7 linked regions of the Homo sapiens genome follow. The protein of the gene in region 1 purifies or fractionates together with the protein of each later gene. This does not show direct contact. Each region holds a gene or a part of one and is shown on either strand. Other genes may lie near its edges.

Region 1 (2,613 bases):
GTAATCCCAGCAATTTGGGGGGCCAAGGTGGGCAGATCACCTGAGGTCAGGAGTTCCAGACCAGCCTGGCCAACATGGCAAACCCCCAGCTCTACTAAAAATACAAAAATAAGCCAGGCGTGGTGACACTAGCCTGTAATCCCAGCTACTCGGGAGGCTGAGGCAGGAGAATCGCCTGAACCTGGGAGGCGGAGGTTGCAGTGAGCCGAGATCCCCCGACCGCACTCCAGCCTGGGCGACAGAGTGAGACTCCGTCAAAAAAAAAAAAAAAGAAGGAAGGGAGGAACGGAGGAAGGGAGGGAGGGAGGGAACAAAAAGGGAGAAAGAAAGGAAAGGATGGAAGGAAGAAAGAGAGAGAGAAAAAGACTGAGGAGATGAAGAGGAGGGGTGAGGTGGGAATGTAGGTTGATGTTGGCTTTGGGTCAGGGTTGCATGCGATTCTAGAACTGGCCGGGGAAGGAGCTGAAGAAGGAATGGGGATGGGATGGGGATGGGTTGGGGTTGGGTGGCTTGGGAGGTCCCGGTGGGGCTGCGCTTGGGGCAGGGATGGGGACGGAGACAGAGGCGAGCAGGGGCTCCTCCAGGGTCCTCCCTCCACCCAGGTCTACTCCTCCAAGACGAACTTCACCAACCTGCTGGGGGGGCTACAGAGCATGGTCCAGGAGGGCGGCTTCCGCTCCCTGTGGCGGGGCAACGGCATCAACGTGCTCAAGATTGCTCCTGAGTATGCCATCAAGTTCTCCGTATTCGAGCAGGTGGGGAATGAGGGGCCTGCTTCCCCCAGCTCAAGCCCAAACCCCTCCCATGCCCCCAAAACTCCAGGCCCTTGTTCAAGCACACACTCACCCTCCAGACCCCAGGCCTCTTCCCTGCGCGGGTTTTGTGTCGGAGGGTGGCTGACTTCTCTCTCACCCTCCTCTCTCCTCTCCCAGTGCAAGAATTACTTCTGTGGAATACAAGGGTCCCCGCCCTTCCAGGAGCGTCTCCTTGCTGGCTCCCTGGCTGTGGCCATCTCCCAGACCCTCATCAACCCCATGGAGGTAAGAGAGCATGTGCCCCGCAGGTGAGGAAACGCCGTGGAAACTAGTTACCCACGTTGCTGGGGCTACTTCCTCTTCCTCCTTTCTCCCCTCCTCCTTTCTCCTCCTTTTTTCTCACACTTCTCCCTCCTCCCCGTTCACCTCTTCCTCCTCTGTCTCCCCTCCTCCTTTCTCCCTCCTCCTCTTTCCTCCTCCTTTCTCCTTCCTCCTCTCCTCCTCCTCCTTTCTCCCTCCTCCTCCCCTCCTCTTTCCTCTCCTCCTCCCCTCCTTTCTTCCTCCTCCTTCCCTCCTCCTTTCTCCCTTCTCCTCCCCTCTTCCTTTCTCCCTTCTCCTCCCCTCTTCCTTTCCTTTCTCCCTCCTCCTTTCTCCCTCCTCTCCCTCTTCCCCCTTTACCTCTTTCTCCTCCTCTCCAATCTCCTCCTCCTTTCTATAAATTTATATATGAATATATTATATATAACACATATACATATATATAACATTTTCATAAATTTATATATGTATATATTATATACAACATATATATTATATATATAACATATATATATTATATATATATTATATATATAATATATATATTATATATATATATAACATATATATAATATATATATTATATATATATGTAACATATATATAATATATATATTATATATATATATAACATATATATAATATATATATTATATATATATATATAAATTTTCAGGCCAGACACCTTGGCTCATGCCTGTAATCCCAACACTTTGGGAGACTGAGCTGGGAGGACTGCTTGCTTGAGCCCAGGAGTTTGAGACCAGCCTGGGCAATATAGCAAGACCCCATCTTTACTGAAAACAAAAATCAGCCAGGTGTGGTGGCGCATGCCTGTAGTCCCAGCTACTCAGGAGGCTGAGGTGGGAGGAGCACTTGAGCCCAGAAGGTCGAAGCTGCAGTGAGCTATGATGGGACACAACTGCACTCCAGCCTGGGTGATAGAGGGAGACCCTGTCTCAAAAAAAATATATATATATATATGTTTTATATATAATATACACATATATTATATACCTTACTTATTATGTAAATATATAGTACATATAACATGTATATATTATATATAACTAAATAATTTAATGTATCTAATTATATAATTACATTTATTATATACTATGTAATATAAAAATATGTCTATGCATGTTATATATAATATATGCATAATGTATAATAATACATATATAATATGTATATATACTATATATATGTATACATATATATTTTCATTTCTCATCTGTGGACCGGAAACCCTCCTTTTTTTCTTTCTTTTTCTTTTTTTTTTTTTTGAGAGTCTCACTCTGTCACCCAGGCTGGAGTGCAGTGGCACGATCTTGACTCACTGCTCACTGCGACCTCCACCTTCTGGGTTCAAGCGATTCTCCTGCTGGGATTACAGCTGCCTGCCACCACACCCAGCTAATTTTTGTATTTTTAGTAGAGACAGGGTTTCGCCATGTTGCCCAGGATGGTCTCAAACTCCTGACCTCAAGTGTTCCACCCACCTTGGCCTCCCAAAGTGCTGGGATTACAGGCATGA
Region 2 (3,500 bases), on another chromosome or scaffold:
GAGGGCAGGGGAGGGGAAAGAAGGGAGGGGAGGGGAGGGGAGGGGAGGGGAGGGGAGGGGAGGGGAGGGAAACCAAGTCCTACTGAGTCTTCCTCCTAAATATATCTGGAATCTGTCTTTCATGTCATCCCCACCGATACTCCAGTTCATCACCATGATCACCTTCGGTCTCATTACCACCCCTCTTCCCCGCCAGTCCATTCCGGGACTGCAGCCAACAACAATTTTTCTAAACCCAAATCTAATGTGTCTCCATCACCTCCCTTCCACGGCTCCCTACGGATCTCGAATAATGTCCAAATTCCTTCCTGTGGCCTCTCAGAGGGTGACATGGGCCCGGCCCACTCGACAGGACACCACCCCCCTCCACTGCCCATGCCTTGCCCCAAAGGGGTTTAAGACAGGCCTTGGGAGCAGCAGGAGCTGGGTCCGATCCCAAGGCCTCTGCCGGGGAAAAGGGCTTTCCCCTGACACGGGGTGATGGGAGAATTCTGTGGGGTGATGTAGGGAAGGGAGAAGCTGGGTCCCATTTAACCTGGAGCCCAAGGAGGCAGAAAGGGCAAAAAGAGCCTGTGAGGAGGAGGCTGGGCTCTGGGGCCTGGGTGAGTCCCTGCCATTCACCAGCTGCCCCTTCCCTCTCTGTACAAGGGGGTGGCCACAGGCCACCTGCCCTGGATGCGGAAGACTTGCACCCCAAGGACCAGCTGCTGCCAGGAAAGTTTTGAAAGGTTCCCCTCATGGCCAGGCGCAGCAGCTCATGCCTGTAATCCCAACACTTCAGGAGGCCGAGATGGGAGGAGATCACTTGAGGCCAGGAGTTCGAGACTAGCCTGGCCAACATAGCGAGATCCCATCTCTATAGAAATAAAAATATAAATAAATAAAGGTTCCCCTCAGAACCAGGCACCAAGCTAAACCCTTCATATGCCCCGAATCCTCCTCAACACTGAGGCCTTCCAAAACTGCCCATTTTCCAGAGGCGGAAAGTGAAGCCGGTGAGAGGAGGTTTGCCCAAGGAAGGGGCCAGAACCGCAGAACTCGCCCCTGAGCCCTCCTTCCCTCCCAGGGACTCTCCTGCCAAACAACCCCTTTGTCTTTCTGGCCCGCTCCCCGGACTGCAAAGCTTCTCCTGTTTAGATCCATGGAGTTGGAAGGCAGGTCTGAAGGATGAGCAAGCTGGTGCTCAGAGAGGCCAAGGGACTTCCCCAAGGTCACCAAGGCCGAGTGAGGACCCAGCCCCGCACCGCAGGGGATCGAGTCCTCTCCTAATAACACAGGTGATGTTTCTTGCCCAGATGCCCATCCCGATGCCGAGAGTCCACCTCAGTCTCTCCTGCTGCTGCTCTGCTCCACTGTCAGAGAAAGGAAAGGCCTCCTTGGTTCATGCCCACGCACACGGGATGTACAGGGACGGCCGAAGCCCCTCCCTTGCTTTGGTCCTTTCCTCTCCTTGTGGCTCACCCTGTGCCTGGCTGTGGGCCCTCCATGTCCCCACGCAGCCATCACACAACCCCCAGCTTTGTCCCAAGATGGTCTCCAGTGACTGCCTCCTGAAGGCAGCAGCTTGGCCCACCCTGGTTGAGCAGAGTTGGGTGGGGAGTGATGATCAGAGAATATTCCTCACCCTAGAGGAAGGGGCCCTCATGGGCCCCAGGACAGTCCACAACCAGAGACACCCAAGAACCCAACTGCTGACCCCAACCTGGAGCCAGGGACCCGTCCTCTGCTCGGGGTCACAGAGGCGTCAGCCGTGGGCTCCTGCCCTCCACCTGCTCCTGTGTGCCGGCACCATTCTGGGCATTAGGGAAAAGGCAGAGGAGAGTCAAGGTTGGCAGGCAAGGTCAAGGCAGAGCCTGGGCTGACCAAAGGCAACAGGGAGGAGGTGGCCACCCCTGAGTCCCAGACCGAGGGTCCCTGGGAAGGACCGCAAACATCATGGGGAGGAGAAGGAGAAGGGAGGAGGGCAGAGGTTGTGCCTCTTGGGCCTGGCTGGCTTGGGCCTGCAGTGGCCTCAGAAGCCTTTAAGGGGATGCAGCTCAGACCACCACAAATGGCTTGCACCCCCATGCTGGAGTTTTCGGATAACCCGGCTGCTTTCCTCCTGAGGCCAGGGATTCCATCTCTCTGGTCCACTCCTCTGTCTCCATGCCTGGCACACAGTGAGCACTTAATGAACAGGCCAGGGCAGCTTCACAATTCACAAGTGGGGCTGCGGAGGCCGCTACACGTAAGAGCAGGCCCCTGCTGGGATTCAGGCACAGCAGTCATAGATGTCACCTTCTGTGTGCCAGGCACAAAGACCAGAGTCAGCAAGATTCCTCTGTGGAGAGAAGAAATTTGCCCACAAAATACACATAAGCCCAGTTCAAGATGAAGCTGTATTGTATGGTCAAAATGATATATATTAAGGCCGGGTGCGGTGGCTCAGGCCTGTGATCCCAGAACTTTGGGAAGCCAAGGCAGGAGGATTGCTTGAGGCCAAGAGTTTGAGACCAGCCCAGGCAAAAGGGCAAGACCCTAACTCTACAAAAAAAATGTTTTTAATTAGCCAGGTGTGGTGTTGTACACCCATGGTCCCAGCTACTGGGGAGGCTGAGGCAGGAGGATTGCTTGGACCCAGGAGGTCAAGGTTTAAGTGAGCCATGATTGCACCATTGCACTCCAGTCAGGGCAACACAGCCAGACCCTGTCTCCAAAAAAAAAAAAAAAGAAAGAAAGAAAGAAAGAAAGAAAGAAAGAAAGAAAGAAAGAAAGAAAGAAAGAAAATGAACAAATAAGCATTAATTACGATCACTGGCATTTACTGACCACATACCCCACGCCACATATCAGGCCCCACACTGCACATGAGTTACCCTGTTGACTTCTCACATCCTCTGAGTTCAGGTGCCATGAGCACACCTATTTTGCAGATGAGGAAACTGAGGCTCAGGTAGGTGAGGGGACCGGCCCATCCCACAGCCGGGACACACGGGGAAGCCAACAGCCTCACCAGCAGGTTGGAAGAGAGTGGGCCAGACCTGAAAGAAACTGGGCCGCCCGCAATGCTGACTGCCACTGTCTAAGTCTTGGCTGCAGAGTGACCCTGTCCATCTCTCCCTAACCTGTTGCTGGTGGAAGGCTGAGGACTGGGTTAGGGTTTGAGCCAGGTGGAATCCCAGTGTGTCCAGTGAGGGCCACACTGCTGGGGCCTTTAGACACTCCTGCTTCCTCACACACACAGACCACCACAGACAGAGCCAGAGACGCCCACCAAGGACACTGCCCAGCACCGACTCGGACGTGGACCCATGGCTCCCCTCTAGGCCCCCTTGGCACTGTGGCCAGCTATGCATGAGGTGGGCTAGGACCCCCAGCATACACTGGAACTGTGGTCTTCAATCCGGGCTCCCCAGGACCACCATCTGCAGCACAAACACGTGTCAAGGATGCAAATTCCTGGGCCCCAGCCAGACCTAAAGAATCGGAAATCCGGGAGGGCAGCCCAGGTACCTTCATGT
Region 3 (3,500 bases), on another chromosome or scaffold:
GTTTCCATGGGATCCTATTTCCATTTGAATTTCTAAGGGTGCTTCCGTTAACTATTCTAGAATTATGACATCAGGATGGATAATCTCAGGAGATACCTCAGTGACTCAAAAAACTACTTTCAAAGGGCTTATATTAGCCACATGTGCAGGATGATTTAAAGCATAACTGTTCCCTCATCCTTTGCTTAAATAATTTAAGTAGTTCTGAAAGGACTACAGCATTTAGGATTTAGTGTGTAGAGCTAAAAAAGAACGCAGACATCAAATTTATATCCTTTCAAATGTCAAAGTTCTAAAATCCTCCCCCTGAACTGAACATATATACACACTAAATCAGTACCAATTTTCACTTCCAAATTTCTCCTATAATTAAGGTTAAAAAATAAAACAAATCACACCCCTTAAAAAATTCTAAGGGCCTCTCAAATTTTAGTGCAATCTAAAACACTATAATTTTATAATGTCTACTGTCAAGTCTTCTGCATCAAGTTAAATGAATCTGTAGTCTTCATTTTCACAGCTTGTTGCAATGGGAACAAGTTGGGCCTGGCTAACTTGCTAAAAGTTATACAATAATAATTTTAACCTAGTGGAGTGTATGTTATTTGGTCTCATCTGTGGAAAACCATATAAGAAATTGGTAATGGTGAAGCCGGGCATGGTGGCTCATGCCTGTAATCCCAGCACTTTGGGAGGCCGAGGCAGGCGGATCACCTGAGGTCAGGAGTTCGAGACCAGCCTCAACATGGAGAATCCCCATCTCTACTAAAAATACAAAATTAGCCAGGCATGGTGGTGCATGCCGGTAATCCCAGCTACCAGGGAGGCTAAGGCAGGAGAATTGCTTGAACCTGGGAGGCAGAGGTTGCAGCGAGCTGAGATCGCGCCATTGCACTCCAGCCTGGGCAACAAGAGCGAAACTCCGTCTCAAAAAAAAAAAAGAAAGAAATTGGTAATGGTGATTGCCTTTAGGGACATCTTGATTACCAGAGAAAAAGAAGATTTACTCCCTCTTATACCTTTTAAATATTAAACCATGTAAAATTTGCAAATCTCTTAATGTATAAAGTAAATATATACAGATATATAGATTTTGTTTTGGTATGTCATCTGATGGGATCATATCCTAAAAACAGGTATCCCAAACTACAATATTTGGAAATTTCAAGTAATGAAAAGCCTTTATTCTGGGTTTCAAATATGGTCACCTAAACTAATTTGCTAAAGATATATATTTTAAAATTTCATATGGATACATAACCCCAAAGAATGTGTGTTAGTCTCTCATCTAGGATACTAAGTTTAGATTAATCAAGCAAAAATATAATAATGTTTTTTATCCCAAAGACCTATTAATAGCAATTCCAGAATTTTAAAATACATTTTAATTCTCTTAGCTTATCCAAGTAATGATAAATCAAATTTTGGGTATATAACCAATGTTTCAATTTAATTTTAAATCAAAATGTAACAAAACCAATAAAATCAAGTGAAATGAGACTTCTGTACAGTTAATCAGTAAAAGAAATAAGGAAAAACTTCAGGATAAAAATACCTAATTGTTGTTTGTTCATTTTTTATGTGCTGACTATAGATAACCTCTGGAAAAAGTCACCTAACTAAAAATCTCAGCTCATTACAATGTGATATATACTAAAGAATACTACTTAGTGTCTTTGGGTGAATGCTTCATATCGTATATAGATTGGGATTACTCTGTAAAATGAAGATTATAAGCTATTCAACTCAGGTATGTTTTACATACTTATTTGTCCCCCATTAATAATTACCTATGAAATGCATTAAGGTTTTTTTGCTGAATAATCTGGGTTTACATAAAAATATAATGCCATTTTAATTATTACATAGCAATGTTGTTATAATCTCAAGACTATTATAAACTTGTACTCAATTATTCCTTTGAGAAAGCAGCGGCTTAGACACTTCCTCACTGTAATACTGATCAATATCTTTTTAAAGTTACATAATCTTTTATAATATCTTTTTAAAGTTACATAATGTTTAATATGTAAAAATAAAGATAAAAAACAATTGTTTTTACATATTAAAAGCAATGGTGTGAATTTCTACTAGTAAAATTATTTTTGCGTCCAATTTTAATTTTGCTGTCCAATTTCAGCTTGATTATCAATGGTGCTATACTTCGTGGCAAAAACTGACTTATCAATAACAAAACACCTGTTCTGTAAAAGGTTTTGAATAATTTTTCCTTCAAAGTACAGTATTAAGTAAAGGAATTTTCAATTTAGCATATAGTTTCAATTGAGAAAACCTATACTTTAAAGAAAAAGGAAGAATGTGCTGCTTTCAAAAGAGCTTGAAGAGAGTTTCAACGATTCAAACTTTCTTCTAATGAAATGTCACAACAAAAAAGGTTTGTCTTTATACATGTAGGGGAGAAAACAATTAATAGGTTGTTTGATTAGAAACCTAAAACTTTGGCTGGGCACAGTGGCTCAGCCTTTTAATCCCAGCACTTTGGGAAGCTGAGGCGGAAACATGGCTTGAGCCCAGGAGTTCGAGACCAGCCTGGGCAACATAGCGAGATCTCATCTCCACAAATAATTTAAAAACCAGCTGGTCATGGTGGCCTGTACCTGTGGTCGCACCTACTTGGAAGGCTGAGGTGGGAGGATCATTTGAGCTTGGGTGGTTGAAGCTGCAGCGAGCCATGCTCGTGCCACTGCGTGCCAGCCCAGGCAACACGGTGAGACTGCAATTCAGAAAAAAAAAAAAAAAAGAAAGAAGAGAAGAGAGAGAAGAGAAGACAAGACAAGACAGACCTAAAACATCAAAGGTTCTCACTACCTCACTTTGACAAGTTTTTATCTTTTAATTGATGAAAAACATATATATTTATCATATAGAGCACGATGTTTTGAATTTTGACAATTTTATTTCCTTTTAATAGTTCCACTTTAAATGCTAGAGGGAAGAGTTAAATTAATATCTATTTTAAGGGATTATTTTATAAATGATCCTGAAATATGTGAATTTTTAGTTTTCTGTTTTTGAGACAGGGTCTCACTCTGTTGCCCAGGCTGGAGTACAGTGACCAATCATAACCTACTGCAACCTTGAACTCCTGGGCTCAAGCAATCCTCCTACCTTAGCCTTCCAAGTAGCTGGGACTACAGGCATATGCCACCACACTTGGCTAATTTTTTAAAATTTTTTGTAGAGACAAGGTCTACTGTGTTGCCCAGGCTGGTCTCCAATTCTTGGGCTCAATCCATTCCCCTGCCTCAGCCTCCCAAAGTGCTGGGATTACAGGAGTGAACCACCATGCCCAGCCTAAAATGACAACTATAAATTCTCGGAAGTTAATTATTTAGTTAATTCCTAGACCTTCCTAGCTCACTGAGCCTCCTCACAGCCCCAATTCCAAGCCAGGAAATAAAATAAAATGCAGTCTATTAACTATTTGTTTTCAATAGTGAAAGTGAAGGCAAAAACTAAAACATAAATTAGATTTGGAG
Region 4 (3,500 bases), on another chromosome or scaffold:
GGCTTTGGCTGTCATGTTTGCTTTCTGAACTTGTCAGTGAGGAGATGACCCAGGTGTCTTCACAGATGGGCCCAAGGCTAGGCCTTTGCCTGCCTGCAGCCCTCTTGGCTCTTACTGGCCTGTGCCTGCCACCTTGCTGCCTCTCTCTCCTCTCCTTCTGCTCTAGCCGTGGTCAGCTTGTTTTGCTCCAGCAGTACTGCTCTGTCCAGCCTTAAGCTTGTAATGATCCTGATCCCTGCCTCTCGTACCCCTGCCCTTATCCTCCAGGTCTCATCCCAAGTGGCGCCTCCTGGGAGGCCTTTTCTGACCTAGCCCGGCACCTGCTTACTCCTCCATCTAGTGATGTGTGAGTGAGCTCCTCGGGGCAGGCCCTAGATGGGCTGGGTGGCCCCTGTGGGGCCTCACATCTCTAGCTTTCCCTCTCCCAGGCCTGTCCCTGGGGAGAGCCATGGTGGGCAGCCATGGGCAGGGACAGCAGCCACTGGCCTGGTCTCAGGGATCCCTGTGAGGTTCCAGGCATTCAAGGCACTTTCTAAAGGGAGGGGCTGGCAGCCAGGCTGGCACACCCACCACCATCACCCTGGTTTCTGCAGGCCTGGGGAAGTGGTTGTTCACCAGAAAAGGAAATTCTTGATGAGAAACCCAAGCGAGGCTGGAAATTCACTGGATTCCAAATGATTCTGACCTTTCATGCTCTACCAGTAATATCTGGAGATGGAAAACAAACAGGCTGCAGAGGAAAGACAATCCCCTCCCGCGATTCCTCCCGCAGGCTGGGCTGGCCCCGGAGGTGAGCTGGCCCCCAGAGTGGTGCCGGCAGTGAGGACAGCCCGTCTCCAGCCGGGCCAGGGCCAGAGCCAGTGCTGGCACGGGCTGGCACAGGGCTGCCACTCTGCTCTCTCCTTTTGGAACGTGCTGAACTGTCCTCCCTGGGCCCTGTCAAAGGCAAGGCAGCCAAGAACAGGCCATGCTCGTTTTCACAAAAGCCGAATGAACCTTGGGGCCCAGTGCCAGGGCTCTGGACACGGCTCCTCCATAGCCCTCCTTCCGTGCTCAGCTTCCAAGGCCTCATCTTCCCTGATGCTGGCAGTGCCTCCCCACCCCCACGCCTGGCGAAGGAGCCACAGCCCCCCGGCCCACCCGCTGGCTTCTGCGTCAGCACGTTGCCAAGGAGAACGTCAGTGTCTCTGGGCTCCCGGGTGTGAGGGCTGCAGTGAGTGCAGGGCAGCACCTCAGAGCAGGGAAGGCAGATTTCCGGGTGTCTGTGGAGCATGGCAGCGAGCCACATGGGGAGCCACGCCCCTCCATGGCCACGGTTCCCACCCTCGTCCGAAGGAATTGGCAGTCCCTTGCCCTGACTAGGGCCAAGTCCTGCAGGTGTGTCAGGCACCCCAGTGCCCCCAAGCCCAACACCCAGCTGGGGCTTCCTCAGGCAGCACAGGAGGCCTGAACACAGCCCAGCAACACAAGGGGGTTTTTCTGGCGCACCTGTCCCCTGAATGATCCTGTGGGGCAGCAGCGCCTGTTATTTTTGTCACAGATCGAGGCACTGAGGCTCAGGCACACAGCTGGCGCTGGCGGGCCCCCAGCCCTCAAGTCCACAAGGACAGCTCCTGAGAGGCCATGTGTCACAGGACCCACCACGGGCCTCCCACTTAGCCAGAGCCATGGCAGAGGCTCTGCCCCTCGTCTTTAGTACATTCACACAAGGGTCAGTCAGCAAAGACAGTCACTCTGCTGCCCTAGGAGGGAAAGGCAAAGTGGAGAAGCTGGCACCTACCAGCCCACACTGAGGGACAGACACAGGTGGCTGTGACCAGCAGAGCCTGGGTCTTCACTCGGCCCCACTGGAGGCACCTGAGGGGGTAGGTGGGCACTTGTTGCCCAACCTCTGCCCTTGCGGATCAGCTAATGGACTCTGCTGGCCACCAAATGGTGTGGGATCCTTCAGAAGGCAAGATTAAAAGGTCTAGTTGTAAAGCATCAAATGTTCTCATGTGGAAACCCACAGGGAGCTCACTGCCCATTTCCCGACGGAGCTGTCAGCATTCCCAGCCCTGTGGCGGGTCTGTTTTGCACCTGTGATGGACCTGCTGTGCAGGCTCAAGGCTCAGGCTGGGGCCAAGTATGAGGGTGAGCACAACTCTCCCAGCAGCACAGGGAACTGGGGGACAAGGAGGAGGCAGTCACACCAGCCCAGCTACAGCTTCATTTCCACAAAGCCTCTGCTACCAGGGATACCTGCCCTGTCTTTCTAGAGCTGGCAGGCAGCAGTTCCCAGCAGTGTCCCCATTGTGCTTTCATCTAGGACCCACAGTAGTCACTTGGGCCCCACAGGCAGGCTGGGTCACAGCAGGGTTCACCGTGGGAGGCCTGGTGTCTCTGCCACTTATCTGAGAGACAGCTGGTCAACATGTTATCAGTGAGGGTATCCAGGGGACGGGGGACATAAGAACATGCCTTTTGTGGGGCAAGTTCTGCAGGTGGCAAGTGCTTGAGCAGCCAGCCTCCAGGCAGGTGGTCTATGCCTGGCCCTGGATAGTGGTCCCTTGTCCTGGGGCCATTGGCTTCCTGAGGAACCCCTCCCCACTCCAGGGCAGGTCAGCAGCCTCAGCACACCACGAGGGCAGGTCCACACCCACCCGGCACAGCCTGTGCTCTGAGCAGAGGGCCTGGCACACAGTGGGTGCTCTGCAGACTTTGTGGAGCGGGCGGGAGGCGGTAGGCTTGGGAAGAGCTGGAGCTCCAGAGCCCTGGCTTCTGGGTGCAGAGCAGCTGGGACACTCAGCCCTTCCCAAGGAGACCCTATGGGTGCTCGTCCATAACAGGAGTGTATGCAGTACCCTGAGGAGGGGCTGCCCAAGGCCGTCCTGTGAACACAGCGTGTTCCTGCCACCCTAGCGCTGTGGTTTATCATTTAGCCCAAAAAGGGTGCTTGTTTTAGTGCTTTTAAAATGGAGTTTAAACATTTGTGCCATAAAATGGCGTGTTGTGGGTGAAACAAGGTGTTTCCAGTAAGACAGGCTTATACCTATTGATGACAGAGCTGGTTATATTTGCCCAAGGAGGGAATTACAAATGGGCAATAGCCAGACACAGATGATACCCTCTCCCCAGCATACCAGGGCTTAGATTGAGAAGGGACCTTATATATCCTTTAGTGTTCCTAACCAGCCGGCTTTGCAGATGAGGAAACTGAGCCTCAGAGAGGTTCCTTCACATACCGCAGGGCTGAGACTCTGGCTCTCAGGGAGGGTCCTGGCACTGGCCCCTGGGAATTCCAGTGGCCCCCCTCTTCACCATACTGGTCCCACATCCTGTGGGTGCTGGGGTTCTCCAGCAAGGGCCTTGGGGGTATAGACTGGGTTCCACCCTTGGAGCTGCTGTGTAGCCAGCCTTCCCTCAGGAGAGTGGAGGACAGTGACACCTGGGCTTGGGAGAGGTGAGTGGCTGTGAAGGTTGACACTCCCCTCGTCCCCTTGTCTCCTGGCCTAGTCAGT
Region 5 (3,500 bases), on another chromosome or scaffold:
TCTATTTTTTAGCAGTAGGTTTCTGATTCCCAGCATTAATTAGCTCATTAGTTACAGGCATTTCATTAAGTTTATTATGTAACTTGTAGAAAATAAATCCATCAGTTATAGATACAACCTCCCTTACCTGGTGTGTAGCAGCTCTCCTCAAAGCACAATGGGGGAAATTTCCTTTACCTGGGCAACAGTGATGGCTGAAAGCCTCCCTGCCACACTTCAGCCTCTCACGTAGGACCTGGAATCGATACCAGATGAAGTCCTAGTTGTCTTGTTTCTGTTTGGGGCTCACTGTCATTTGGGAGCCTGTACCGAACTTTTATTTCATGCCTAGTCAGGTTTAGATTTAGAGACCTCCATCAACTTGCCCTGTGCTATCTTATTTTCCCCTACCTCCTGGTGGGAAGAGAGAAAATTGATTATTTTAAGGAACTGGCTCATGTGATAGTGGGGGCCAACAAGTCTGACATCTGCAGGGCAGTCCAGCAGACTGGACATTCAGGTAAGGACTGGTGTTGCAGTCTTTGAGTTTGAAGGGGAGAAAACCCAGGGAGAATTTCTGTGTTGCAGTCCAGAGGCAGAATTCTTTTTCCTTTGGGAAATCTCAGTCTTGGCTCTTAAAGCCTTCACCTGATTAGATGAGACCCACCTAATAATGGAGGAATCCACTTTACCGAAAGTCAACTGATAGTAAATGTTAATCACACATTTAAAAAATACCTTTACAGCAACATCTAGACTAGAGTTTTACCAAACAATTGGTCACCATAGTTCAGTCAAGTGGACATAAAATTAACTGTGACACCATCCTCCTTAGAGTCAGACAAAACAGTCTTGGAAGTGTCTCTGACTCTTTACCCATGCTATCTACTACAGGCTGTGGACACTCCAATCCCTATTGACCTGTGAGCAGGAGGCTTTTCTCTTCCTTTTCCTATGTTCCATATAGCCTTCATTTTTATGAAATCCAACCTGTGTCTCACTTCTTTCTGATTTCTCACCCCGATTGATACACATACTCTAAATCACAAATACGTATATTCGCATGCACATAGAGTATATATCGCACTTATCATTAGCAACATGGTATTCATTTTGGACATAGAAACAGACAATCCATCCTAGAAATCTAATGTCATATTATTTTTAATAAAAATAATTCCTCAAATATATAACCAAAGATTTTTTTTACAATGACTTGTGACTTTTTATATAACTACATTTTTTTAAAAAGAAATATTTTTCACATCATGATTCCTGATTATAGTTACAGTGGAGCATGTCCTTACTTATTATAGAGCAACTGAGTGAAGTTGTGGATTAGTCAAAACAGCCATGTTTAATTTTCAGTGCCTCAACCAGAAATTGTTACTCTTTAAGTATTTGGGGCAGGTGGGTTCTTACAGGCAGCAGAAATGAGAATAAGGTGGGTGAGGGTGTATATCAGTTTAAACAGGCATCCACCTGGGCATCTTGGCACAGGTCAGATTATCTGAAGTGGAAAGAGTGGTATCGTTGAAGAGGCATCAGGTTGGGCTTAGGATACTCAGAGCGAAAGCCAGGCATGGCTTTGGGTAGTTCTGTGAGGTTTGACCAGTCACAGAATGTCTTAAGCAGTTTTCTCTTCTGTAAGGTATGATTTTGAGGCCTAAGGGAATGCATGTGAAAGTTCTTTGTAGAAGAGCTGTGCAATGTTAATAGTTGCTGTTTCCTGTAATCGCTGTTGTTAGAGATGTTGTGGGCATGCGTGGGAGTCTGTGGGGAGCTCCATGGCTGAGGTGACCTGGCTCCTCATGACCTGTTCTTCCATGTTGATTTGGTTCCATGCTCATGAAGACCCTGGCATCGCCTGAGGTCATGGTGATGTCCAGCAACAGATGATGAGGGCTTGAAATAAAGTGAGCTTGGATGGTCACTTTATGGAGAAGGAGGAAGTAATTCCAGAAACACTGGGGGATAAATGTGGTAGGGTGTGGTGAACAGACACACAGGATTAGAAACAGGGAAGAAGATACTGTGATTCCAGCTGGTGAGACCAGATCAACAGTGGACCCGTCAGCTGTGATCGTCTTCTGTGTAGGTCTGAACTTGCAAGGAAAGCCAGGGCTAGGGGTTCACACTTAGGAATAATGAACATCTGATTTGTAGCTAAACCCATGTGAGTAGAGGAAGTCACCAAGGGGAGTGTAGAGTGGAGGAGAGCTGGCAGCCGGGGATGAACCCTGATGAATACATCGCATGCCCACCACCATGATGAATGTGAGACTGGCTCAGTAAAGGTTATAAATGCAAGAATGAGAAGCAGGATTTACTTTAGCCATAAGTACACGGTCAAATGACTTTCTGAAAAAGAGGAAAGTGTCTATACTAGGGTAAGACAGAACTGTAAGAGTCGTGGCCCCTAGATCTAGCCAAATATTGATCTTCATAAAATCTAAATGTGGTCGTCTAGTTAAAAAGGACTACGCACCCTTTTTGGTAAACAACTTGGCAGCCTCTGCCAAGCCTTTGAAAAGTTAATATCCCTTCATTCATTAATTCTACTTCCAGGAATCTATTTGAAGGAAATAAGCAGAGCTACAAATATGCTTCCTCTTCTTGGGGGTGTGAATTTCCCTGGAATGCATAGGATAAGGGCAGCATTTAACTTTGACATCTTTTTAAAGTTTGGATCCTAGGTAGCACTATGGTATAAGATACAAAATTTGTGCTGAAGTTGAAGGTAAAAGATGAGCATTCGAAGAAATCTTGCAGTTTTCCCTCAGACTCCCACTCTCCTCTGCTCTTGAGGTTATGACTGTGGTGGGAGAGTCGGATATGCTGGCCTGCAGGGTGAACTGAGAGCCTTTGCGGGCATGGATCCAAGGCCATATGTGATCCGGTCCTTGTCATGTCTAGTCAAGCTTCATTTCTGGGCTCCTCTTGGTTTCTCATGTCATGTTCCAGAAATATTTCTAGAAATTTCCTCAACACACCAGGCTGTTGCATACTGTCACGCTTTTGCCCATCATGATCCTTCCTTGCCTTTACATGGATTGCCCTCTCCTTTTCCTTTACATATGTGCTGAACTCTTATTCATCCTTCAAAGCCTTCTGCAGAGTAGGTCCCAAATAGGTTTTGTCTAGCATGGCATTTTGGAAAAAAAAAATTGGATTTGAATGCTTTAAGGTGAGGCATGCATGCTCCAGTTCTGCCACATTTCTTATTCTTCCTTTTGTGTTACACCACGTCATTTGTTACATCCCTGATCTACTCGGAGAAACTTTTCTCAACCTCCCCTTCAGGCAGAAATAATCACCATTGTCACTGTCATGTCTATGCCTTCACATCCATTACTATATTATCCTCTATGAGGAATTTTTACAATATTTACTTTTTCAATTCTAAAAGTAACATCCATGCCCCTTAAGTAAATTTTGAAAATTACACAGTAATAGAAAAAAATCACTTATAGCCCCACTCCCCAAATACAGTGCTGTTTTCATTTTGGTGACTGTTTTTA
Region 6 (3,500 bases), on another chromosome or scaffold:
GGCAACATAGTGAGACCCCGTCTCTACAAAAAATCATTTGCTGGGCATGGTGGCACACTCTAGTCCCAGCTACTCGGGAAACTGAGGCAGGAGGACCCCTTGAGCCCAGGAGGTTGAGGCTGCAGTGAGCCGTGTTCACACCACTGTACTCCAGCCTGGGTGACAAAGTGAAAACCTGCCACTCAAAAAAAAAAAACTTTAAAAAAATTAATATGGAGATTTTCAACATGATTAATAAGAGATTGTAAATTAGATACTATCCATTTGGCAAAAAAATTAAGTTTGATAGCACCAATATTGGCAGCATGTGGGAAATCAGTACTCATTCATTACCAGTAGGAGTGAAACTGGTTTAACCTCCACAGAGAAATTTAGCAATCGCTATCAAAATCTTAAATGGATGTAAACTGTTATTCAACAACTATACTTCCACAATGTCAACAAAATTAAAAAAGGATTTAACCCCAGGACACATTATTAAATAAAAAAATACAAAGTTCAGAATAGTGAGTATAATATAATATACTACCGGCTGGGCGCAGTGGCTCACGCCTGTAATCCTAGCACTTTGGGAGGCCGAGGCGGGTGGATCACGAGGTCAGGAGGTCAAGACCAGCCTGGCCAAGATGGTGAAGCCCCGTCTCTACTAAAAAAAATACAAAAATTAGCCGGGCGTGGTGGTGGGCGCTTGTAATCCCAGCTACTCGGGAGGCTGAGGCAGAGAATTGCTTGAACCCAGGAGGCGGAGGCTGCAGTGAGCAGAGATCGCGCCATTGCACTCCAGCCTGGGCAACAAAAGCGAAACTCCGTCTCAAAAAAAAAAAAGAAACAATCGTTATCTATAGGGTGGGGAAGTAGGGGGCTACAGGCCAGATGAGAAAAACTCACTTTTCATTGGATACTCTTTTGTGCCTTCTGAATTTTGTACCATGTGCTGTACTAACATTCAAAAATAAATAAATGAGCTTATTCTTACTTACCTTCATGAGGCTTTCTGAGCAACCAAGTGACTTGAGAAATAAAGTAAGCCTAGTAAATTTTTCCCCTACTCAAATAGTTTCAAATTCTTTTTTGCTGCCAACTATCTTTAATAGAGATAATAACCAGTCATCTAAGCTGATTTTTCTTTTGGTCAAATCACCAATGTAGAACTGGCCAGTCCAGAAACAGCTCTACATGCTCAAACATAGGGGCTGGATCCTAACCCCTCAGGCCCTAGAACCAGGATGGGGAGGCCGCATTAAGCTGGATGCATGTCCTAAATCAAGAATCACTCACCCGGTCATAGGTGTCCCCCTCCAGTTCTCCCCATTTCCTGCCATCCCATGAGGTAACTCGAACTTGATTTCCATCCCTGATCTCTTCAGGCACATAGCTGTGAAGGATCTTCTGTAGTCTGGCTATTCGGGACGGGGAGAGATCATTGGCAGCAAGATTGCCTATGGAAATAAAGATACTTCAGAGGCCATGACCCAATGAAACATTCCACCAGCAATGGCGCTGATGGAGTCAGACCAATTCTCAGGTAGTCCCAGCCAATGCAAACCCCAGCATCAGGAACATTTATTATGTGCATGGCACAGCATCAGTCATTCTGAGTGGGGGTACAATGGCAAACACCTAAATGGGCCAGAAAGTATCAAAGTTATTTAAGTCAATGAATAAAGCAGACCAAGTAAGACTCCTTTCCTTTCTCCTTTCCTGTCCTCTCTCCCCTTTCTCCCCTTTCTTTCCCCTTTCCCCTTTTCCTTTCCCCATTACTTTCGCCTTTCTTCTCTCCTTTCCCTCTCCCCTTTCCTCCCTTTCCTTTCTCTCCTTTTCTTTCTCTCCCTCTCTTTCCTTTTGTTTTTTTTTTAAGACAGAGTCTCATTCTGTCGCCCAGGCTGGAGTTCAGTGGCACACTCTCAGCTCACTGCAACCTCCACCTCCTGGGTTCAAGTGATTATCATGCCTTAGCCTCCTGAGTAGCTGGGACTATGGGTGTGCACCACTATACCCGGCTAATTTTTGCATTTTTAGTAGAGACAGCATTTCACCATGTTGGCCAGGCTGGTCTTGAACTCCTGACCTCAGGTGATCCCGCCTGCCTTGGCCTCCCAAAGTGCTAGGATTACAGGTGTGAGCCACTGCACCCAGCCACATTCTTTTTTTTTTTTTTTAAAGACAGGGTCTCTGAGTCTGGGCATAGTGGCTCACGCCTCTCATCCCAGCACTTTGGGAGGACGCCAAAGTAGGTGGATTGCTTCAGCCCAGGAGTTCAAGACCAGCCTGGGCAACATAGCGATACCTCATTTCTACAAAAATAAAAATATATTTAAATAATTTTTTAAAAAGAGACTGGAAGGCCAGGCACGGTGGCTCACACCTGTAATCCCAGCACTTTGGGAGGACAAGGCAGGCGGATCACAAGGTCAGGAGATCGAGACCATCCTGGCTAACATGGTGAAACCCCGTCTCTACTAAAAATACAAAAAATTAGCCGGGCATGGGGGTGGGTACCTGTAGTCCCAGCTACTCGGGAGGCTGAGGCAGGGGAAAGGCGTGAACCCGGGAGGCAGAGCTTGCAGTGAGCCGAGATGGCGCCACTGCATTCCAGCCTGGGCGACAGAGCAAGGCTCCATCTCAAAAAAAAAAAAAAAAAAAAAAAGAGACTGGGTCTCACTATGTTGCCCAGGTAGGTCTTGAATTCCTGGCCTCAAGCAATTCTCCCACCTCAGCCTCCCAAAGTGCTGGGATGATGGGTGTGGGCCACCATGCCCAGCCAAGAATATTTATTTCTAAAAAAATATGCTCTCCCACTATTCTGGAAACCTATGGCTCTCTTCATCTTTGGTAGATACTACAGTTTATTTAGCCAAAATCATTCTCCTCTTCCTCCTTATTAATAGAACCCCAATTTTTTGGAAGGGGAAAATTGCCCCAAAAGACTACATTTCTCAACCTTTCTTTAGTTTCGCTCTTGTTGCCCAGGCTAGAGTGCAATGGCGCGATCTCGGCTTACCATAACCTCCGCCTCCCGGGTTCAAGCGATTCTCCTGCCTCAGCCTCCCGAGTAGCTGGGATTACAGGCATGCGCCACCACGCCGGCAAATTTTGTATTTTTAGTAGAGACGGGGTTTCTCCATGTTGGTCAGGCTGGTCTTGAACTCCCGACCTCAGGTGATCTGCCTGCGTCGGCCTCCCAAAGTGCTGGGATTACAGGTGTGAGCCACCACACCCGGCTAAGCCTTTCTTTTACAACTAAGTATGACTATATGACTAACTTTTGGTCATAGTTGTAGGCATAAGTATTGGATAGGAATTCTGGGAAGATATTTTTAAAAGGCTGACATAATTGGGAGATGAAATGAGTCTCTTTTGCCCAATCCTTTCCTCTTGACTCAAATATGGATGTGATGGCTGGACTTCCAGCAGTCATTCTGGACCATGAGGCCTTGCCTTAGAGCTTTACTAGTTACATATCTTCTCCCTCTTAAAGGGAGGGAGGCTAAGGCTGACAC
Region 7 (3,500 bases), about 49 Mb from region 1:
TTTGCATGGCCGTGTCGTATTCTGTGGGGACAGATGTGTGTCCACCCACTGGCGACAGGTGGGTTGTGGGCCTTGCGCCCAGTCGGCCGCCCCAGAGCCCGCGTCGCAGGCAGTCTCTGGCCCGCCTTGTGCCCGGCGTGCTGACCGGGCATCCCCGTGCCCGCTCGCAGGCCATGACGCTGATGGAGTACCTCATCAAGACCGGCTCGGAGCGCGTGTCGCAGCAGTGCAAGGAGAACATGTACGCCGTGCAGACGCTGAAGGACTTCCAGTACGTGGACCGCGACGGCAAGGACCAGGGCGTGAACGTGCGTGAGAAAGCTAAGCAGCTGGTGGCCCTGCTGCGCGACGAGGACCGGCTGCGGGAAGAGCGGGCGCACGCGCTCAAGACCAAGGAAAAGCTGGCACAGACCGCCACGGGTGAGTCCCTCCCTGCGGCCCCTGACGGCCTAGAGTCTGTCCTCCGCCTACTGCGGCTCCCGGCACCCGGCCGCCCACTGCTTTCTCTCCCAGCCAGGAGGGACCGCGGCATCCCCCTTTGCTTCTCCTCACCTGGGCCCCTTGCTCTGGTCTCACTTGGGCCCTTTTTTTCCCTTAGCACCTCCCATGCAGCAGCTCTGGGACCCTTCCTGCCTCTTGCCTCGTGCCCCAGGGCAGGCCTAGAATTGGGAACTTTTATTCCGCTCCCCCATAGGCTCAGGGCCTGAGGGTGATCAGTGCTGGGGACAGGGCTCTGAGGGGACACGCACAGTGACCCCCGAGGGTGCTGTCCTTCTCTCTGCGCTGAGATGAGGGGAACATCGGAGAGGCAGAGGGGGGCCTGGAAGAGGCACAGAAGGAAGGCCAGAGCCAGGGCCTGCAGGTTGCACCAGGCATCTGGGCCTGTGTTAGGAGCCTTGACAGTGCCTTCTGGAGGTGGAGGACTCAGTCTGGTGGGTGGTGACCAGCACCGAAAACAAAACTTGAAATAGTGCATCCCACATCGTCAAGCCAAGATCTGTCCCACGAAACATTTCCAGTTATGTGATGGGTGTGTGGGTCTCGGACTGTTCCAGGAAGTGTGGTCTGTGTTGGTCGGGGGCTCACAGCCGTGAAGAGGCTAGTCCGGCTGCTCAGGACTGGGAGGGAGGCTGGAGAATGTCTGCCAGGCTCTTCTGCTCTCCAGGAAGAGTGGAGGTGCCTCAGTTAGTGGGGATACGTGGGATGGGGAGGGGCTGCTAGAGCACTGCCCTGGAGGTGGAGGTGGGTCAGCCAGGCCGGTGCAGACAGGAGGAAGGGCCTGTGGCCCTCGTGGGGTCCGGCTCGAGGGACTGGACTTGTTTGGGGAAGTCTAGGCCTTCTGTTTGGACGGGTCTCATTTGGGATCACCTTTCAGCACCCACGGGGAGACATGGGTGTGACGGGGTGTGTGCGACCCTGCCTGGGACTCCAGAGTAGGGACCCACGAGCCAGTAGATGGGCGTGAACGCAGAGAGAGAGTGAAGTGGAGGGAAGGAAGCCGGTGTGGCGTGGGAGTGCTCAGAGCCAGGGACAACAGGAGGGAGTGTAGGCGGCAGAGAGGGGCTGGTCAGCTCGAGGCAGGCAGGCAGGCAGGTGGGTGGCGGGGTTGGGGTGGACGGAGGAGGGACATTGGCAGTAGCTCGGAGGAGAGTGGGAGCCTCAGGTAAGAGGCCTGAGGGTGGGACATCCTGGCTCGGGGGTCGTCAGACTTTGTGCAAGGCCAGAGCTAATGTCCTCTGCGTTGCTGGCCACGCCTTCCCATCCTAGCTGCCTGGCCCCGTCCGCTGGCGGTTGCTGGGAAGCAGCTGCACCCCTCCGACACTCACCAAGGTCTCCGAAATTTGAATTTTATGTAGTTTTCACGTGTCTTTTTTAAGACTTTTAAGTTGTTATTTAATTTTTTAAGGGTACTCTGAATTTTCGCCCATCTTGGTGCATTCTTTTCATTTCTTCCAACCATTGAAAAATGTAAAGGCCTTTCTTAGACCTTCTCAGGCCAGCTGTGGCTGCCACTGTGGTGTGCTGGCCCCTGTCTTGGAGTGAGTTGTGTGGAGGGCTGTGGCTGGGGAGGAGGATGGGGGCAGCTAGGGAGTGAGCCCTGAGACCCTCAGTGGGCAGGGAAGGGCCTGTGGTCCCCGGGCAGCACCGAGGCTGGGTGCTCTGGTGATGGGAAGGCCCGGGTGTTGCTGGCTGGGTGCCAGTATTACCTGTGATGTGGGAGGTGGGGCCCTCAGGGCTGCTGGGCATTGGATTTAGCCACCACCAGGCTGGGGGGTTAGGGGCATGTGCAAGGTAGAGGTTGGGCAATGGGGTGTAGATTCCCAGCACTCACCTCTGAGAGTCCCTAGAGCTTAGGAGGAAGTCACAGGGGCAGGGAAGAGCAGGAGGGGCCACAGGGGTGTGGTCCTCCCTGTGCGCTGGCCTCACCTGTGCCCCACGCTGCCCTTCCATCTGCCCATCCCCTCAGAAGGCCGCTTACCCACCCAAGTCCGTCAATCCCTGCTGGTTCTCTCGTCCTTTCCTCACTCATAACCCCAGATGGTCACCCTTCGGCCCCGCTCTGCCACCCACATGCTCCCTGGAGCATCCCATGCACCCAGCCCTGCTGGGCACACCACACGGGGGCCAGCCTGGGGGCCCCTGGACCCGGTGCAGGTGGGGCCGCCAGACAGCTGCCTGCTGCGGCTCCGGGCAAGGGGAGCCAGGGCCTGCTCGTCAGGGAGAGGCCTGGGCCTGGGGAGTGGGTTGGGTGGGGACACAAGTACAGGACACAGGTGCAAGGCGGCGTCTTGGAGCTGGAGCAGACAGAACTTGCTGACCAGTGCACAGTGGTTGGGAGGGCGGGGCAGGAGAGGCAGGGTCCGCCCTGGGGCTTTGGAGGCTGGGGCAATGGCCCTGTGCTCGGCGGGCCTAGGGCCTGGTTGGAGCCTGTCCTCTGCACTGTGGAGGGGGGCAAGGGTCCACAGGCCTTGGGGGTGGAGAGAACAGTGTCAGGACAGAGTTTGAGGGTAGGCGGGGTTGCTGAGAGGATGCTGCAGTGGAGGCCGGGGATATCTCAGCAGCCTCCTGGAGGGTCCGGCCCTGCCTTCCTGTGTCCTCTCTCTCCCTTCCCCTCCTGCTCTTGGAACCAAGGGCTCCTCGCTAGCCCACTCCCTAACCCCGACTAGGCCTTGGATCCCGCTGTCTCAATGGATGCTGTTCTCCCCTCTGAATTCCAGTTGTTCCCTGCCAGAGCTACCATTCTCAACAAGCCCTGGAAACAGGCCTGGGAAACCTGGGAGGAAGGACCTCCCATCCCCCAGGGGCCCAGGGACAGACCCCAGGCACGCGGAGAGTCCTGGTGGTGGCAGGGCTCAGAGGTTGCTGGGGTTCCCCACCTGCTTATCAGACTGACTTTTGCTCTGGTCCTTCCCTGATGCCTGGCCCCTCCCGTGGGTGGGGCTGCCTGCATCCCCACCCTTCCTCCTCTGAGCACCTGGCGTCTGGTCTCCGCCTCTCAG

The links.
Region 2: the proteins of SLC25A41 (region 1) and NCS1 purify together in Homo sapiens (affinity purification with mass spectrometry; 3 studies listed by BioGRID and IntAct, with this or other methods). This does not show direct contact.
Region 3: the proteins of SLC25A41 (region 1) and FCHO2 purify together in Homo sapiens (affinity purification with mass spectrometry; 3 studies listed by BioGRID and IntAct, with this or other methods). This does not show direct contact.
Region 4: the proteins of SLC25A41 (region 1) and GNAZ purify together in Homo sapiens (affinity purification with mass spectrometry; 3 studies listed by BioGRID and IntAct, with this or other methods). This does not show direct contact.
Region 5: the proteins of SLC25A41 (region 1) and RFTN1 purify together in Homo sapiens (affinity purification with mass spectrometry; 3 studies listed by BioGRID and IntAct, with this or other methods). This does not show direct contact.
Region 6: the proteins of SLC25A41 (region 1) and NSUN4 purify together in Homo sapiens (affinity purification with mass spectrometry; 3 studies listed by BioGRID and IntAct, with this or other methods). This does not show direct contact.
Region 7: the proteins of SLC25A41 (region 1) and EPN1 purify together in Homo sapiens (affinity purification with mass spectrometry; 3 studies listed by BioGRID and IntAct, with this or other methods). This does not show direct contact.

Annotation. Positions count from the first base shown.
Region 1 is NC_000019.10:6,428,151-6,430,763, reverse strand, and holds part of SLC25A41 (mitochondrial carrier protein SCaMC-3L), read left to right. Parts: intron 1-145; exon of another isoform or gene 146-243; intron 244-602; coding exon 603-755; intron 756-932; coding exon 933-1,040; intron 1,041-2,613. UniProt on the Homo sapiens protein: Calcium-independent ATP-Mg/Pi exchanger that catalyzes the electroneutral exchange of Mg-ATP or free ADP against an hydrogenphosphate and participates in the net transport of adenine nucleotides across the mitochondria inner membrane.
Region 2 is NC_000009.12:130,175,404-130,178,903, reverse strand, and holds part of NCS1 (neuronal calcium sensor 1), read right to left. Parts: intron 1-3,500. UniProt on the Homo sapiens protein: Neuronal calcium sensor, regulator of G protein-coupled receptor phosphorylation in a calcium dependent manner. Directly regulates GRK1 (RHOK), but not GRK2 to GRK5. Can substitute for calmodulin. Stimulates PI4KB kinase activity.
Region 3 is NC_000005.10:72,959,041-72,962,540, reverse strand, and holds part of FCHO2 (F-BAR domain only protein 2), read right to left. Parts: intron 1-3,500. UniProt on the Homo sapiens protein: Functions in an early step of clathrin-mediated endocytosis. Has both a membrane binding/bending activity and the ability to recruit proteins essential to the formation of functional clathrin-coated pits.
Region 4 is NC_000022.11:23,098,019-23,101,518, forward strand, and holds part of GNAZ (guanine nucleotide-binding protein G(z) subunit alpha), read left to right. Parts: intron 1-593; coding exon of another isoform or gene 594-794; exon of another isoform or gene 795-3,500. UniProt on the Homo sapiens protein: Guanine nucleotide-binding proteins (G proteins) are involved as modulators or transducers in various transmembrane signaling systems.
Region 5 is NC_000003.12:16,381,200-16,384,699, reverse strand, and holds part of RFTN1 (raftlin), read left to right. Parts: intron 1-3,500. UniProt on the Homo sapiens protein: Involved in protein trafficking via association with clathrin and AP2 complex.
Region 6 is NC_000001.11:46,350,807-46,354,306, reverse strand, and holds part of NSUN4 (5-cytosine rRNA methyltransferase NSUN4), read right to left. Parts: intron 1,440-3,500; coding exon 1,279-1,439; intron 1-1,278. UniProt on the Homo sapiens protein: Mitochondrial RNA cytosine C(5)-methyltransferase that methylates cytosine to 5-methylcytosine (m5C) in various RNAs, such as rRNAs, mRNAs and some long non-coding RNAs (lncRNAs).
Region 7 is NC_000019.10:55,685,226-55,688,725, forward strand, and holds part of EPN1 (epsin-1), read left to right. Parts: intron 1-170; coding exon 171-420; intron 421-3,500. UniProt on the Homo sapiens protein: Binds to membranes enriched in phosphatidylinositol 4,5-bisphosphate (PtdIns(4,5)P2). Modifies membrane curvature and facilitates the formation of clathrin-coated invaginations. Regulates receptor-mediated endocytosis.